Regions from separate parts of the Homo sapiens genome. Here region 1 is linked to region 2. A link means that fine-mapping ties the variant in region 2 to the expression of a gene that starts in the linked region. Tissue or cell type: lung. Region 2 holds a variant in brackets; the other region holds the start of a gene. All regions are shown on one strand. Distances are from middle to middle.

Region 1 (8,188 bases), 130 kb before region 2:
TTAGATCATTTATAATCAGAATTCTACAGTCATTAATAAATAATGCATATAAATTATCCATGGTAAACACTAATAGCTGAAGCTATGTAGAGACTGAAAAGTCAGGTATATTAATAGATATTACGTATTTCTTCTATCTAAACTCCCAAGTATGTCAACACATTCATCTATTTCTTTAAATCTGTTCATCAAAGCCAGGTTTAAGTACAACAGCAAAGTTCACTACAATAGCTTCCAGTACTTAATGGTAATAGATTCAATTTAATAATTTGATTTATATTAATAGTTTTAGAATTATTTTATTCCTCATCGTTGAATGCACTTGCTAATGCTTTTTTTTTTTTTTTGAAACAGAGTCTTGCTCTGTAGCTCAGGCTGGAGTGCAGTGGCATGATCTCAGCTTACTGCAACCTCTACCTCCGGGTTCAAGTGATCCTCCCAACTCAGCCTCGCAAGTAGCTGGGACTAGAGGCATGTACCACCATAACCAGCTAATTTTTGTATTTTTAAGAGACAGGGATTTTCCAGGTTGGCTAAGCTGGTCTGGAACTCCTGGCCTCAAGTGATCTGCCCACCTCAACCTCCCAAAGTGCCAGGATTACAGACATAAGCCACCACGCCCAGCTGCTAATGTTTTAAGCTCATCAGTGAAAGACACAGTCATAAATTTTTGAATTGGTTTTAAACTTGGGTCTTTCTGCACTGAAAAACAAGTGATGTTGCTATTTCTGGATTTCAAGGAGGTACTAACAATAAGAAGCCTACAAGGGCTTTACTGGTATTCTTTACAAGAACATTGAAGTTTGAGATATAAGAATCAAGAAAGTTGAGATATTAAGGTTTTTAAAAATGTGCATAATCTGATGGAATTTCATTACCAGAAGTCTACACTCTAATCCAATGGTTCTCAATTGAGTGAATTCACCCCTCAGGGCATTTTGTATCATTACAACTGAGTGGTGGTGGTGGTGGTGGTGGTGGGGGGGGTAAGGGGTGGTGATCCTGCCAAATAGGCTAGGAACACTGTTAAACATACTACAATGTATAAAACAGCCTTTCCACCACAAAAAAATTATTCAGTTCAAAATATCTATAATGCCAAGATTGAGAAGCCCTGATCTAATCCAATAAAAGTACCATACTCATCATAGATTATTTATGTAATATAACGTAATAGGCAATATCATATTTTTGAGACCACACACTGAGTTCAAAGGTCTTGAATCTAAAAGCACAACAAAGAATTATATTCCTGGCCAGGCACGGTAGCTCATGCCTGTAATCCCACCACTTTGAGAGGCTGAGGCAGGTGGATCACGAGGTCAGGAATTCGAGACCAGCCTGACCAACATGGTGAAACCCTGTCTCTACTAAAAATACAAAAATTAGCCTGGCATAGTGGTGCGTGACTGTAATCCCAGCTACTCAGGAGGCTGAGGCAGAAGAATCGCTTGAACTTGGGAGGTGGAGGTTGCAGTGAGCAGAGATCACACCACTGCACTCCAGCCTGGGTGACAGAGTGAGACTCCATCTCAAAAAAAAAAAAAAAAAAAAAAAAAGAATTCTATTCCTTAACCTAATCTTGCTCAATGTAATCAGCTGCAAAGTATTAAACTTTTAAAAAGACCATTAAGAATAAATCTACTTTCTATTTTTAAACAAAATAGAAACTTCACAAACTCATATATTTTATTACCCTCTGTTAGTTGTTCACATAATATGGTATTCCAGGAACTTAAGCAAATCTCATCTTCCAAGATTCTATGGTCCAACTCATGCTAAAACCAATTCAAAATGAAAACATTTTGGAAATTAAAGTACCTATTGTAGTCTAGGAGTCAGCAGACCTTGGTTTTAGGCTTGAGCCCATCAATGCCTGTGTGACCTTAGAGAGATCCACTTAGCATTATCTTCTGCACAGCCATGTAAGAATTAAATAAGGTATGAAATCTATCACTTATCTTCTGACAATGTCATAAATTACTCACAGGAACCCTCTCCCGAATTTTGCTAATCCTGTGGTTTTCTGATATTTAACGTAATATTCCTCCTACCTATGGTGCTCATTAGTGAAAGTATAGAAATGCTTCTCTTGGTTATTAGTCACATCTCGGATGCGTTTATATACGGGGGCACTGCGATTTCTCACTTCTTGAAGAACTGTTTGTAGCACAATTACATTCCTGATGGCAGGGTCCTCAAGAACATCAATCTTAAAGAAAGATAAAGTTAATTTTTCCTATATTCATTTGTAAATAGCTCTGTCAAACATAAAATCCTGTTTTATGTTGGGCATAAATACTTTATGTTTTAAAAACACTGAATAAGTTAAGCCAAGAAGCTATTTGGCTATAGAAAACGAGACAATAGTCACTAAACCCTTCAGATCTATTAAAAAAAGCACACTTAAACAGACCAATCACAAGACTTCGTAGAATTAAGGGTATTAATAAAGGAATACGTTGGCCCACATAGTTTTTTGTTCCTAGGCACTTACAAGCTGCCTGGGAGTCGCAGGCTGGAGGCCACAGAAGCCCAGGTCCCCGGCCTCCAGGCACTTACAATCTAAGGCAGAAGAGACACCAGGAGTTAGAAAAATAACGTGTCTGAACTACGACTCCAAGAACTAAATTTTTTAAAGCACAAGGAAAAGAACCTCGGCCTGGGGAACAGGAAGCTTCGGTCCCGAGGGGGTTTCCCTTTCGCTAGGTATGTGACACTGCCAAAGACCCGCCTCCCTGGGCCTCAGTTTCCCTGTCATACCCCCTTGTCCCCGTGGGGCCGCGCTGTCCGCGGTTCGCCCGCCCACGCACCTGGTGCAGTAACACATTAGTGTCGGGCAGCAAGTAGTGCGGTTGCGGGCAGACGCTGCTCGCCGGGTCCTGGGGCTGCGGCTCCAGGGCCGGCCCCTCGTGCGCCCCTCCACACGCTGCGCACCCGGGCGCACCGCAGCCGATGTCGTCTCGCAGGTAGTGCTCGCGCACGATCTTCATCACGCCGCCCGCCCGGGTCTTTTTTAAGAACGTCTTGGACTTGAGCATCTTGCCTCGCCGCGCAGAATCCTAACCCCAGCAGCGCTCTTCCAGCAAAAGGCGTCAATCTAGAATACGCCTAACCCCGGAGGTTCTTCCCTTTCCATTCCCGGATATTAGTAACACTTCTCGCGGGAAAATGCCGAGATAAACATTGGTTGGCTCTCTGACGGCCGCGGGGATTGGGCGAGAGTGGGGAGGGGCGGCAAAGCAAGGCGAGGAGCCATTTCCGCCCGTGGCCTAGGCGGGGCTTCCTTCTGGACGCCACCTCACAACGTGTGTTGCTTTCCGCTCCTCGGAACATCCGGGAGAGTTGACTTCCGGCGGCTTGTGGGAGTGCTGGTTCTGTCCTCCTTGCGGGTGCGGAGATGGTTGTCTTGGTTACGGGTCCTAACGGTCCCCTGCCTTGAAATCCCTTGTTGAGGGCCTGCAACCTTGTGCTTCCGACCGGAGACGCCTTTGGTCCCTCGGTGTCTGCACTGGCTGCTGGTCAAGGCTTCAGTGTGGAGTAATTGACACTTTCGAGGTAACTTGCGACTATCATCGCTTTCTTTCCCGCGTGGGGCAAGGAATCCCCCGAGCTGCCAAGTTTGGGGCTTAATTTTCACGCCGAGTGTATAGGCAGTCCCCGTCTCGGGCCCTTTGTAATCGAGGAGAGAATTTGTCTTTGAATTCACTTTTTCTTACCTATTTCCCTTCAAAAAGAAGGAGGGAGGCCGATCTTAGTATAGTTCTCGCTGTTTCCCCTCCACACACCTTTCCTTATCATTCAGTTTAGAAAAACTGAAATATTTAATAGCATAATTTGTTATATCATGAGGTATTAAAACAAGGTAGTTGCTAACATTCTTATGAGAGAGTTAGAAGTAAGTTCTATTTAGAATTTCTTGAATTTTTCTTATATCCTGTTGTTTTCATTCTGCTATCTATAAAAAATGTTTTTGTCCCCGTTTTCCCTATTTAAAACATCTTCAATGATGCCTCATTGCCTGTAGAATAAAATCCAACCCTATTTTGACATTTAAGGCCTTCCAGTCTTGATCGTTAAGGGCGTGTGTGTGTGTGTGTGTGTGTGTGTGTGTGTTTGTGTTTGTGTTGGGGGGGCGGTGAAAGGAGTAACTATTCCAAGACTTGGCTTTGTTTTTTTACTTCCACTTACGTATCATTAATAACTGCATGATTTCTCCTTTTTACCATGCCTGTCCAAATCTTTAAAGATTCTAAGTGCTACCTCTGTGTAACGTTTCCCTGACCAACTCAGACGTGATTTCTGTTATCTTTGAGCATGTGTTGGTTTTAGTGGTGCCATTCTTGATTATAATGGGCTTTTTTCTTCATCTTGTACATTTCTTTGTTTCCTCCAAGTAAGATTCCTCCCCGCAGGAACTGTTTTTTTAAGTTTCTCGAAGGCTGACTTCATATTAGGAATTAATGTGTTTGATTTGAGCATTAACTTAACTGCAATAATCTGTTCTAGATTTGGGATGCACTAAATTGCCTAATATTTATTTAAGGAATCCTTAGTCTCTCTTTAATACAGTCCATGATTTCTGTAGTTAATTTTATAGTACATTTGAATTAATGTTTTTTAACCTACAGAATATTAAAATCAAATTAGAGAAGAAAACTGATCCATAATAATAAAAATGTCTCGAAAAATTTCAAAGGAGTCAAAAAAAGTGAACATCTCTAGTTCTCTGGAATCTGAAGATATTAGTTTAGAAACAACAGTTCCTACGGATGATATTTCCTCATCAGAAGAGCGAGAGGGCAAAGTCAGAATCACCAGGCAGCTAATTGAACGAAAAGAACTACTTCATAATATTCAGTTACTAAAAATTGAGCTATCCCAGAAAACTATGATGATCGACAATTTGAAAGTGGATTATCTTACAAAGGTAAGATCAGGTTTAAATTTTGTGTTCTATATGCTTTATTGTCTTCAAACGGCAGGTAAATAAGAATTAAATACACACATTATCTGAACTTGAAATGATACATTTATATTTCTTGACAAGTACAGCCTTTAAATAATTTTGGTGTTCATAGAAGTAGAGAATAGAATGGTGGTTACCAAGGGCTGGCATGGTTAGGGGTGAAGGAGGGTTGGGGAGATGTTGGTCAAAGGATACATAATTACAGTTGAATAGGAGGAATACATTCAAGAGATCTATTGGACAGCATGGTGGCTATAGTTAATGACATTGTAATCTTGGAAAACATTGTGTTTTTGAAAAACACAGCAGATGTTAAGTGTTCTCATTACTAAAATAACTATGTGAGGTAAAACATTTTTTAATTAGCTAGAGTTAACCATTTCACAATGTACGTATACTTCAAAACATTATGTTGTACATGACATATACACACAGTTTTATCTGTCAGTTGGGATCACCTGAGGTCAGGAGTTTGAGACCAACCTGGCCAACATTGTGAAACCCCAGCTCTACTTAAAAAAAAAAAAAAAAAAAAATTAGCCAGCCATGATGGTGGGTGCCTGTAATCCCAGCTGCTCGGGAGGCTGAGGCAGGAGAATTGCTTGAACCCAGGAGGCAGAGTTTGCAGTGAGCCACAATCGTGCCACTGCACTCCAGCCTGGGCAACACAGCAAGACTCTCAAAAACTAGTAATAATAATAATAATAATAATTGGAGGCCAAGTGCGGTGGCTCACACCTGTAATTCCAGCACTTTGGATGCTGAGGCCAGTGGATTGCTCCAAGCTCAGGAGTTCGAGACTACCCTGAGCAACATGGTGAGACCACCCTTGCTACTAAAAAAATAAAATAGCCCCGCGTAGTGGTGCTGCGCCTGCAGGCCCAGCTACTTCCGAGGCTGAGGCGGGAGAATCACTTGAATCCGGGGGCAGACATTGCAGTGAGCTGAGATCGTACCACTGCACTCCAGCCTGGGTAACAGAGTGAGACCCTATCTCAAAAAAATAATAATAATAATTTAAGTATTGAAATATGGAGTGATTTAAACGTAGATATGGATAAATTACTTTTGTAGGCTCAATTTAAAAAATCTAACATATGAGGTATTTTGTTGTTTTTTGTTGTTGTTGTTGGAGACAGTCTTGCTCTGTCACCCAGGCTGGAGTTCAGTGGCACAATCTTGGCTCACTGCAACCTCCACCTCTTGGGTTCAAGCAATTCTCCTGCCTCAGTCTCCCACGTAGCTGGGATTACAAGTGCTCCCCACCATGCCCAGCTAGCTCTCTGGGATCACTTTTATAAGGGCACCAATCCCAACAGTGAGGGTTCTACCCTTATAACCTAATCACCCCAAAGGCCCCAACTTCCTGCTACTCACATTGGTGATTAGGTTTCAATATACAAATTTTGAGGGGAGAAAAAAAAATAAGCACACAAGACGTATTAGCCGTTGTTGTTTTCAACTAACATAGCATCCTTATCTGTTTCATCCCTTTCATTTTCTGTGCCTTTTATGGCCATCGGACTGAATTTGTTTGTTATTTGTCTGTGAATAGACTATGAGGTCCATGAGGACGGGGATGTTTTTGTATTCATGGTTGTATTTCCAGCACTTAGAACGGTGCCTGACACAAATTAAGTGCCCAGCTATTTCTTAAATGAATGACTGAACCCCATTTTGCTCTGATTAAACAAAGCCACTAGGTGGTTAATAGCATACCCAAGGCCATTCAGATGAAAGTGATAGAGCCAGATAGGATTCAAACCTAGGAAGTCTAAAGCCTATACTCTACACAAGTGAAGCTCCAAACACTTTCTTTTAGGTACCCTATACAGTCACCTACCTAGTCTAGGTCACTTGGTAGTTTATCCATGCATCCAGTGGTTTCCCATCCCTATTCCCTTACTCTTTTTGCATTTCACATGAACTCCATCTACCTTCACCTCTCCAGACCTTAGTGCAACTCATTGAAGAAACCTGAGGTTATCTCCCATTCATTAATTCACCCACTCAGTCAACAAGTATTTTTTTAAGTGCCACCTGTATACCATATCCAGACTTACATTTTGTTCAGCCACCTCTTGTATTATTTGTTTTCAACTTGCATTGTCCTTGGTTGTCAATGGCTTTGCTTCTTTTTAGGTGTAAGCTTTATATTATAGAAATGTTGGTTGATTCATGACAGGCTCTCTAGTGTAACAAATCCAAATTACAGTTCTAGATGCACACAGTTTGGGTTTTGAATTCCAGCCTTACTAAATTCCTTAATGTTTTTATTCCGTGATTTCCTATAAAATGATAATAGTATTTATTCCGTGGAATTATCGGGAGGATTAATCAATGTATGTAAGCTCATAGATGCTTGGTGTATACTAATAATAAACTTATTATTTACATATTATTTTATTTGTAGCTATACTTACTCAGCACAATATTATTATTTTTCTACTTCCATGGTGCTTAGTGTAGTTTTTGTTGTGGTTTTCTAGTTTGACTGAAAATGTAGAAGATTGCAATAGTCGTGTTCCTGAGTTTGACACATAATCATCATTGATCCCTGAAAGGCTGCTGTTTTTCTAATGTATTTATTCTTTTCATTCCTATAGCTCATTCCATTTCTTAATGCAAACATTTTAATGTTTTGTTTACATGTATTCTTGAGAATGTGTATCTTTTAACTTTACAGAAATGTAAATTATATGCTTTGTTTTAGTTCTCATCTCTTTTTTCCTACTCAGCACTGTTTTTGAAGTTATCTATTACTTTGTATACATCTAGTCCTTTGCTTCCAACTCTTATGTAATTCTTTGTGTGCGTCTACCAGTCTTTCTACTCCTACATTGCTAGGCATCCAGATTGCCTCCAGCTCCTTGCAACACATGCAGCATTAGACATTTCTCTTCTGGACCTCTGTGAGCATGTCTTTGACATATATAAATGTCTCCTTCATTTAACTAAGTGTACTGCCAGGTTATCTCCAAAATAGCTGCCCTGCTGTATATTAGTAGAGTTTTTTTCTCTATCATACGAGCACTCAGGATTCTCTGCTTGAAGACTCTTTAGGAATAAGATGTTTGCTCTCAAATATATGAAGAAATACCTATTGTAGAGTTAGCCTTCCATAATTTATTGAACCTAAAGCACCTCTGTTGTAAGATGCATCATTACATACATTGCTAAGGTTAAACACTTCCAGTTGAATTGTTAAGTGCCTTAGAT
Region 2 (8,188 bases):
TGTAACAGAAAACATAGGTGAGTTATCTTTACAACGTGGAGTACATTAAGACTTTTTTTGACATGGCCCTTGAATGTAATTATCATAAAAGAAAAACTGATAAAGTAGATGTCATCAAAATTTAAAACTTCTGTTCTTCAAAAGACACCATTAAGAAATGAATAGCCAAGCCACAGACTCAAAGAAAATAACCACAATTTTATATCTGACAAAAGAATGATACCCAAAATAAGAAAATATTGAGGAGAAAATATTCACAAAACATAGATTAAACAAAAGAAAATGATACCCAAATGTGGTGGGCTGAAAAACATCCTTCTAGAGATGTCCATGTCCTGTTGGGCATAGTGACTCATGCCTGTAATTCCAACACTTTGGGAGGCTGAGGCAGGTGGATCACTTGAGCTCAGGAGTTCAAGATTAGCCTGACATGGTGAGACCCCATCTCTAGAAAAAAAGAGAAAGAGAGAAGGAAAGAAAGGAAGGGAAGAAGGAAGGAAGGAAGGAAAGAGAAAGGAAAAGGAAGGAAGGAAAGAAAAGAGAAAAGAAAAGAAAGATGTCCATGTCCTCATCTTTGGAACCTCTGAAAAAGCTGGAAAAGGCAAGGAAACAGATTTCACCATAGAGCCTTCACACAGAACCAGCCCTACAAAGCATTGACTTCAGGTCAGTGAGGCTGATTTTTGGACTTACTACCTGTAGAGCTATAAAATAATAAATTTGTATTGTTTAAACCATAAAGTCTGGCAATCTGTTAACGTTAGCAGTAGGAAATTAATGTACCAGAATATATATTTAAAAATTCATGTAACTCAGTGATTAAAAAAAAAATAGTCCTGTTTAAAACATGGGCAAAAGGTTTAAACACTTCACAAAGGAAGACATGTGAATGACAAGTAAGCATAATAAAAGTATTCAACATTACTAGTCATGAGGGAAAAGCAGATTAAAAGCCCAGTGAGATACCACTGTATACCCACAAGAATGGCTGAAATTAGAAAGACTGACTATACCAAATGTTGGTGAGAAGTGGAGCAACTGGCAGTTTCTTACAAAATAATTAAACAACCTAATCAGTGATCCAGCATTTCCGTTACTTACCCAAGAGAGAAGAAAGCATATGCACCTTAAAAGATTTCCTCTAGAATGTTCATAGGAAATGTATTCATAATAGTCAAAAACTGACAACAGCCCAGGTGTGTATCTCAAAGGAAAATGGTTAATCAAACCATTATACATTCATGTAGTAGAATACTTCTCCTCACTGGAAGGAAACAATTGACTTACTTAACAACATGGATGAATCTGAAAAACATAAAGTGTACTTTATATAATATAGTATGATTATACTGTATGATTATAGTATGTGGTATGATTATACTATATGATTATAGTATATGGTATGATTATACTATATGATTATAGTATATAGTATGATTATACTGTATGATTATAGTATATAGTATGATTATACTATATGATTATATAAAGTTCTAGAAGAGACAGAAGTAATCTATGATGAAAAAAATCAAGGGGTGGGGGTAAAAATTTTTTTTTTTATTTTTAAAAAGACAAAAATCAGAACTGTAGTTGTCTCTAAAGATGATTGTCACCAAAAATTAACTGAGAAAAGTGACATGGAACTTTCCAGGGTATTCAGATGTTCTATATATCTTGATAGGGTTTGTGTTAAACACATGTCTGTACATTTCAAAACTTTTACATTTCAAAACTCGTTGAATGGTAGACTTAAAAAATAAAAATAAAATTTATACATGGTGAAAGTTACAAATCTTATTTTTTAGAAAATAACTGTAAATACATATTGAATTATAATTGATGATTTGCATGTTAAACTGTTGAGGAGTGAAGTGTGCAAATGTCCACAACTTTCTTTGAAATGCATCAAAAAAACATTCATGGAAACGGGTGGATATATGTATAATAAACACATAGTATGTTTGATTTAGAATCCAGATGTTGGAGCCAGGCACAGTGGCTCATGCCTTTAACCCCAGCATTTTGGGAGACCAAGGCAGGACGATTGCTTGAGCCCAGAAGTTCAAGGCCAGCCGGGGCAACCTGGCAAGACCATCTCTACAAAAAAATAAAAAATGAACCAGGCATGGTGGTGCCAGCTACATGGGAGGGTGAGGTGGGATGATCGCCTGAGCCCTGAACGTCAAGGCTGCAGTGACTGTGTTCACGCCACTGCACTCCAGTCTGGGTGACAGAATGAGACTCTGTCTCAAAAAAAAAAAAAATTGCAGATGTTGAGTATATGGATGTATACTGTACATTTTTTCAGTGTGTCCACATGTATAAATATTTTCTTAAAAGCTGCAGAAAAATAGAAATTAATTTTTGTTATGATACTATCTAAACCAACTTCAAATAAAATAGATTTACCTGTACTAGAAGATCAGTAACTAGGTTCTCTATCAGTTCACATTGGAAATTAAAATATACCTTGTCCTTATTTAATGAATACTTATCGATTAACTAAAATTTCAAAGAAGTGAGCACAGACTTTTTTTAGTACTACATTGTGTACAATTTTCAAAGGCTTGCCATTTAATTCAGGTAATTTCGGCTGACTTTTTTCAACAGACTATTTTTAGTACTACATTGTATACAATTTTCAAAGGCTTGCCATTTAATTCGGGTAATTTTAGCCGACATGAAGGTGATTAGCCTTCATTTATTAAGGTGTAACCATAGCAAATTAAAGTATCTTATTTATACTTGTATTGCTTTCTGTAATCAAATAAGTATTATTTGGATATTTGAGTTTAGTTTTCAAAGATTTCATCAAGTTGTTAAAAGTATAAGTATTGTCTAAAAGCTAAATAAACTCATATTAGAAAAAAAAAACAACCTAGATTTCTAGTTGTTAAATTCAGTTACCTGCCACACATCCTCATCATACTTATAACCTTCACTAGGCATTTGTCGAATTTCTCAGAACTCCCTTCTCTTTGCTTCTTGAATCACCTGCCTTTGTTTATTTTCCATCACTTAACTTCTGGATAATCTTTTCCCTTTCCGCAACTTCAGTTACTATCAATAGGCTAGTAATTTCTATAGTTAGACACAGGGTCTCACTGTGTTGCCCAGGCTGGAGTGCAGTGGTACAATCATAGCTCACTGCAGTCTCAAACTCCTGGGCTCAAGTGATTCCCCCTGCCTCATCCTCCCAAGTAGCTGAGACTACAGACACATGCCATCATGCCCAACTAATTATTTTTTGTAGAGACACGGTCTCACTATGTTGCCTAGAGTGATCTCAAACTCCTGGCCTCAAGGGATCCCCCTGCCTGGGCCTCCCAAAACGCTGGGATTATAGGCATAAGCCACCATGCACAGCTGAAAATTTAACATTATTTGCATTTCCTCTTTCTTCCCTGAAACTTCCTAATTTTTCTGTACAGTTGCTCTCTCTATTAGCAGATACTGCATCTCAGATTTAATCACCTGTGGATTGAAAATATTGGGGAAAAGACAATAATAAAAAATAATACATTTTTAAAAATACAATATAACAACTATTATATATAGCATGTACATTGTGTTAGGTATTGTAAGTGATGCAGACATGGTTTAAAGTGTATGTGAAGGTGTAGATATGTTATATGCAGATATATATATATATACCATTTTATATAAGGGACTTAATCCTGTGGATTAAAACTTCACATACCTTACAAGTCTATGCTTCTGCACATGGACTTCTCTCCTATTCCTTCACTGAATCTCAGTCTCCCCATATCTACCCTATACCTTGTAGCATGGGAAATAGTGGCACTCAGATGCAGTTGCCCTGCGCTCTGCTTCTAAGACACATTGTTCAGATCTCTTTAATAGCATTGTTCAGATCCCTTTAGTAGCATTGACCAAGTTGTATAATACATTGTTTCTGTAATTAATCCCTGCTAGAATAGTTATCCCATGATTTATTAATCCATTAAGTATTAAACTCACATTTAGCATGTCCATTAATATCTAACT[T/C]ATGGGTTTTTGAGATGTGAACTAAATTTACCCCTCTCTCCTCTGAATTTAGAACTATTAAGGAGAAACAAGAGTCAGTTACATATCTAAATGTTAGCTCTAGTTCCAGTAGAGCTTATTTGGAGAACTCATCTTGGATCTGGACTTACCTGCTAGCTGATCATAGTATTGGTAATGGCATGTATCATCTCTTCCATGTGTCTCTCTCAACTAATAATTCTTCCTCAGAAAGCTAATCCTGATTCACCATGAAAGATAGGGACAAAATTAAAAGAAAACAGTTAATAAATGTTTCTAAAATCTTTACTACAGAAGGGCCAATCAACAAATGTATCCCTATTACATTGATAGGCATGCAGAAGATGAAACATCATGATGGTTGTAAAATATGTGGCTTTGTTTTAATTCTGAAATATTCCTGAAAGTGAATATCTTTTTAACATTAAAATAATGGCTGGTGATAAATAATATTATGAAAGTTTTTATATGTCAATGACTGCTTTTACTTGAGCTATTAAAACTATAGCCTTTGATGAAATACTTTTTTTGGTGTTTTGGGGGTTTTTTTTGATGATGAAATGTTTTTTGGCCAGGTGCGGTGGCTCACACGTGTAATCCCAGCACTTTGGGAGGCTGAGGCAGGCAGATCACCTGAGGTTGGGAGTTTGAGACCAGCCTGGCCAACATGGCGAAACCCTGTCTCTACTAAAAATACAAAAAAAATTAGCCGGGCTTGGTGGTGGGCACCTGCAATCCCAGCTACTGGGGAGGCTGAGGCAGGAGAATCGCTTGAACCTGGGAGGCAGAGGTCGCTGTGAGCAGAGATCACGCCATTACACTCCAGCCTGGGCAACAAGAGCGAAACTCCATCTCAAAAAATATATATATATATATATTTTTTTAATCCCAACTTGCAGTAAAATGTCATTGCATTTCAAGTTTTTTACCCAGAAGATGTTAACCTGTTAGTTAAAATTCCTTTTGGGAAGTAGTGTGACAATAGCAGAATTTAAAAGTAAATTATTTTCACATAATTTTTTTACATTTAAAAAAAGTAAGGCCATCAATACATGCTTAGAGCTGCACAGTTTTTAATAGAGTAACCTACATAAGTACATAATTTTATTGTTGCAAATTAAAATAAAGTTGTTCTGATAAAATAATATTTGTCCTAATTTAAAAATCATTTATCAAGAACAGAATTGATGACTTTGATATGTTATCATTATTTGTTATATTACATAGCATATTTCATGCAAAAAGCCTTTGAGTCCTTCAGAATAATACATGTATTATTATACTTTTTAACAAGAAAACCTAACATGATATGATGCAATCCCTTATACATTTCAAAAATAAATGGAGCAAATTCAAGCAAGGATATACTTTAAGAAATATGTTTCTACTTACAAATGGGCTGTTTAAGATTACATATTAGCCCTTTCTAATGTTTTTATCCTCCCTAATTTGTTATAACCTCCTTTATTTTCACTTCTGCCATCTTTTTTAAAGGAAAAATAAAGTTATTTCACATTATACACTTTAATATTTTCCAGTTGAAAATGAAGATGAGGCTGAAAGGGTTCTTTTTTCCTACGGCTATGGTGCTAATGTTCCCACAACAGCCAAAAGACGACTAAAGCAAAGGTAAAATCAATATATATTTATTTTATTTATCTACTCAAGATGAATGTAATTACATTTGTGCTTTCTGATAATGTGCTGAGTTCAGTGACAAAGTCCTTTATTCTTACTCTGCATAAATATTAAATTTCTCACAAAATAAAACACTAATAATCATGTATTTCATATATATTTAAATAAATTTAGTGGTTTGTAGAAGTGTGCATAAGAATTTATGTAGAATTAGATTCGATGATAAGGACCTTGTTTTTATTTTCACATTAATTTCAGATGAGCTACAAATGCTTTGTATCAAGAATATTCAGATTAAAATTCATTGTGCTTTTTTTTTTTCTTTCTCTCATTTTTATTCAACTGCCTACATTCCTTCACATACATGTTAGGGAGAGTGATTTGGAATTAATGCATATATTGTAATTGAAACTATGAAAGGCTTTACAAAACCAAGAGAATATTTAGAAGACCCACTAGTTATCTTGTGAGATAATGTTTAAAAGTACAGTCAGCCCTCTATATCCATGGGTTTCACATGTGTGAATTCAACCAACCGCTTATCAAAAATATTCGCGAAAAGAATGGATGATTGCATCTATGCTGAGTATGTGCCGACTTTTTTTCTTGTCATTATTCCTTAATACAGTTATTCACATAGCATTTACATTTTGTTAGGTATTATAAGTAATCTAGAGATGATTTAAAGTATATGGGAGGATATGCGTAGGTTGTATGCAAATATTATACCAATTGTATGTAAGGGACTTGAGCACTCATGGATTTTGGTATCCACAGGAGGTGGAGAATGTACACTGGAACCATGCATCCCGTGGATACCAACAGACAACTGTATGCTAACAGAAAATTATACCTACATTAATCAGGTTTCCAGTTGACCTGCCTGATTTTTATTCCTAACTCCTCTCTTGCACGAAAATTTATCCTGCTTTGCAAAAACATCTCACGGCCCCATTCACTACCACATCAAATCCATCAAATCTAAATGTTTCTTTCAGACTTCCACGCGCCTCTATAATGTAGCTCTATCTCTCCAGCCTTATTTGCCTCTCTACCCAAAGTGCAGTGGATATACCTATTTCTCTGCCTATAAAGCAACTGTTTTCTCTGTACCACACAGCAGAGCATTTCTCTTATCTCATTAGCTATCATTTCCTGTGTAATTTACCCATCTAGATGGAAAGTTCTTCGAGGTCAGCAACTACCTATTTTTTTTTTTTTTTTTTTTTGAGATGGAGTCTCATTCTGTCACCCAGGCCTGGAGTGCAATGGCACAGTCTCAGCTCACTGCAACCTCCACCTTCCAGGTTCAAGCAGTTCTCCTGCCTCAGTCTCCCAAGTAGCTGGGACTACAGGCGTGCACCACCACACCCTGCTAATTTTTGTATTTTTAGTAGAGATGGGGTTTCACCATGTTGGTCAGGCTGGTCTTGAACTCCTGGCCTTGGCCTCAAGTGATCCACCTGCCTCGGCCTTCCAAAGTGCTGGAAACACAGGAGAGATCCACCATGCCCAGTCTAGCAACTACATCTTTTTTTTTTTTTTTTGAGACAGAGACTCACTGTGTCACCCAGGCTAGAGGCAGTGGCACGATCTCAGCTCACTGCAACCTCCACCTCCCAGGTTCAAGCAATTCTCCTGTCTCAGCCTCCCGAGTAGCTGGGATTACAGGCATGTGCCACCATGCCTGGCTAATTTTTGTATTTTTAATAGCGACAGGGTTTCACTGTATTGGCCAGGCTGGTCTCAAACTCCTGACCTCAAGTGATCCACCCACCTCGGCCTCCCAAAGTGCTGGGATTACAGGCATGAGCTACCACGCCGTGCCAACTACATCTTATTCTTGTTTATTTTTCACTTTCTCTATCTAACTCAGTGCAGGATACCTAGTAAAATTGTTTCTTCATCAGAGCGTTTGAGAATTCAGAGTTGCTTTTTTTTATGTGAACTGATTTAGACATTTAGAGACATTGTACACTAAGAAAATGACTCAGAAAATAGAACATCTATATGGCTATCTAAAATGATGTATCCTCATTAATATAGTGGTGAATAAAAAAATAAAGTGATGTAGAATATAGAGCACTTTATAGAAAGCAAGAAAAGGATAGTTAGAACTTATGGCTCTTACCAGTTAAACTAAATATATGCCAAATTTTGATCAAGGCGAGCTGAATAGAAAGTATATATTTGTAGCTGGAATGTTTAATTCTGTCTGGTGAGGATTCAGATATTTCAGAATTATGTATTTTTAAAAAATCAGTCCCATTCCCATTTCCTCTAAAAGTCACAATGGGTAACCTAGGATATTTTGTAATTTTCAGCATATCTGTTTCTTAGTCCAATGTTGCCTAAGGAAGAATAGAACATAGTTTTGTGGGTAAGAGACTTATCAGTAGTAAATGATAGGTAAAATACTAAAACTTGAAATTTAAAGGGAAAGGTCATATTCTTTTCTCTATTTTGGCCTCTGAATCCTTCAAAAGAATCTTTGTTACAAGAAAAAATAGGGCTGGGTGCAGTG

The links. PIP is the estimated chance that this variant, and not a neighbour inherited with it, causes the effect.
Region 1: PIBF1 starts here. The variant in region 2 is fine-mapped to the expression of PIBF1 in lung (TOPMed, PIP 0.94).

Annotation. Positions count from the first base shown.
Region 1 is chr13:72,778,792-72,786,979 of GRCh38, forward strand. It overlaps PIBF1 (progesterone immunomodulatory binding factor 1), which reads left to right and starts at 3,342. Exons shown (of 18, transcript NM_006346.4): 1 at 3,342-3,558; 2 at 4,632-4,930. The coding sequence starts at 4,679. DIS3 (DIS3 exosome endoribonuclease and 3''-5'' exoribonuclease) reads right to left here and starts at 3,109. Exons shown (of 21, transcript NM_014953.5): 1 at 2,814-3,109; 2 at 2,055-2,212. The coding sequence starts at 3,041. RefSeq lists enhancers at 2,301-3,215, 3,133-3,242 and a silencer at 2,803-2,852.
Region 2 is chr13:72,911,512-72,919,699 of GRCh38, forward strand. It overlaps PIBF1 (progesterone immunomodulatory binding factor 1), which reads left to right. Exons shown (of 18, transcript NM_006346.4): 13 at 5,565-5,655. Among named protein-coding and RNA genes, the nearest start is that of PIBF1, 130 kb to the left of the region's middle. The variant T/C (reference allele first, on the strand shown) is at 4,009.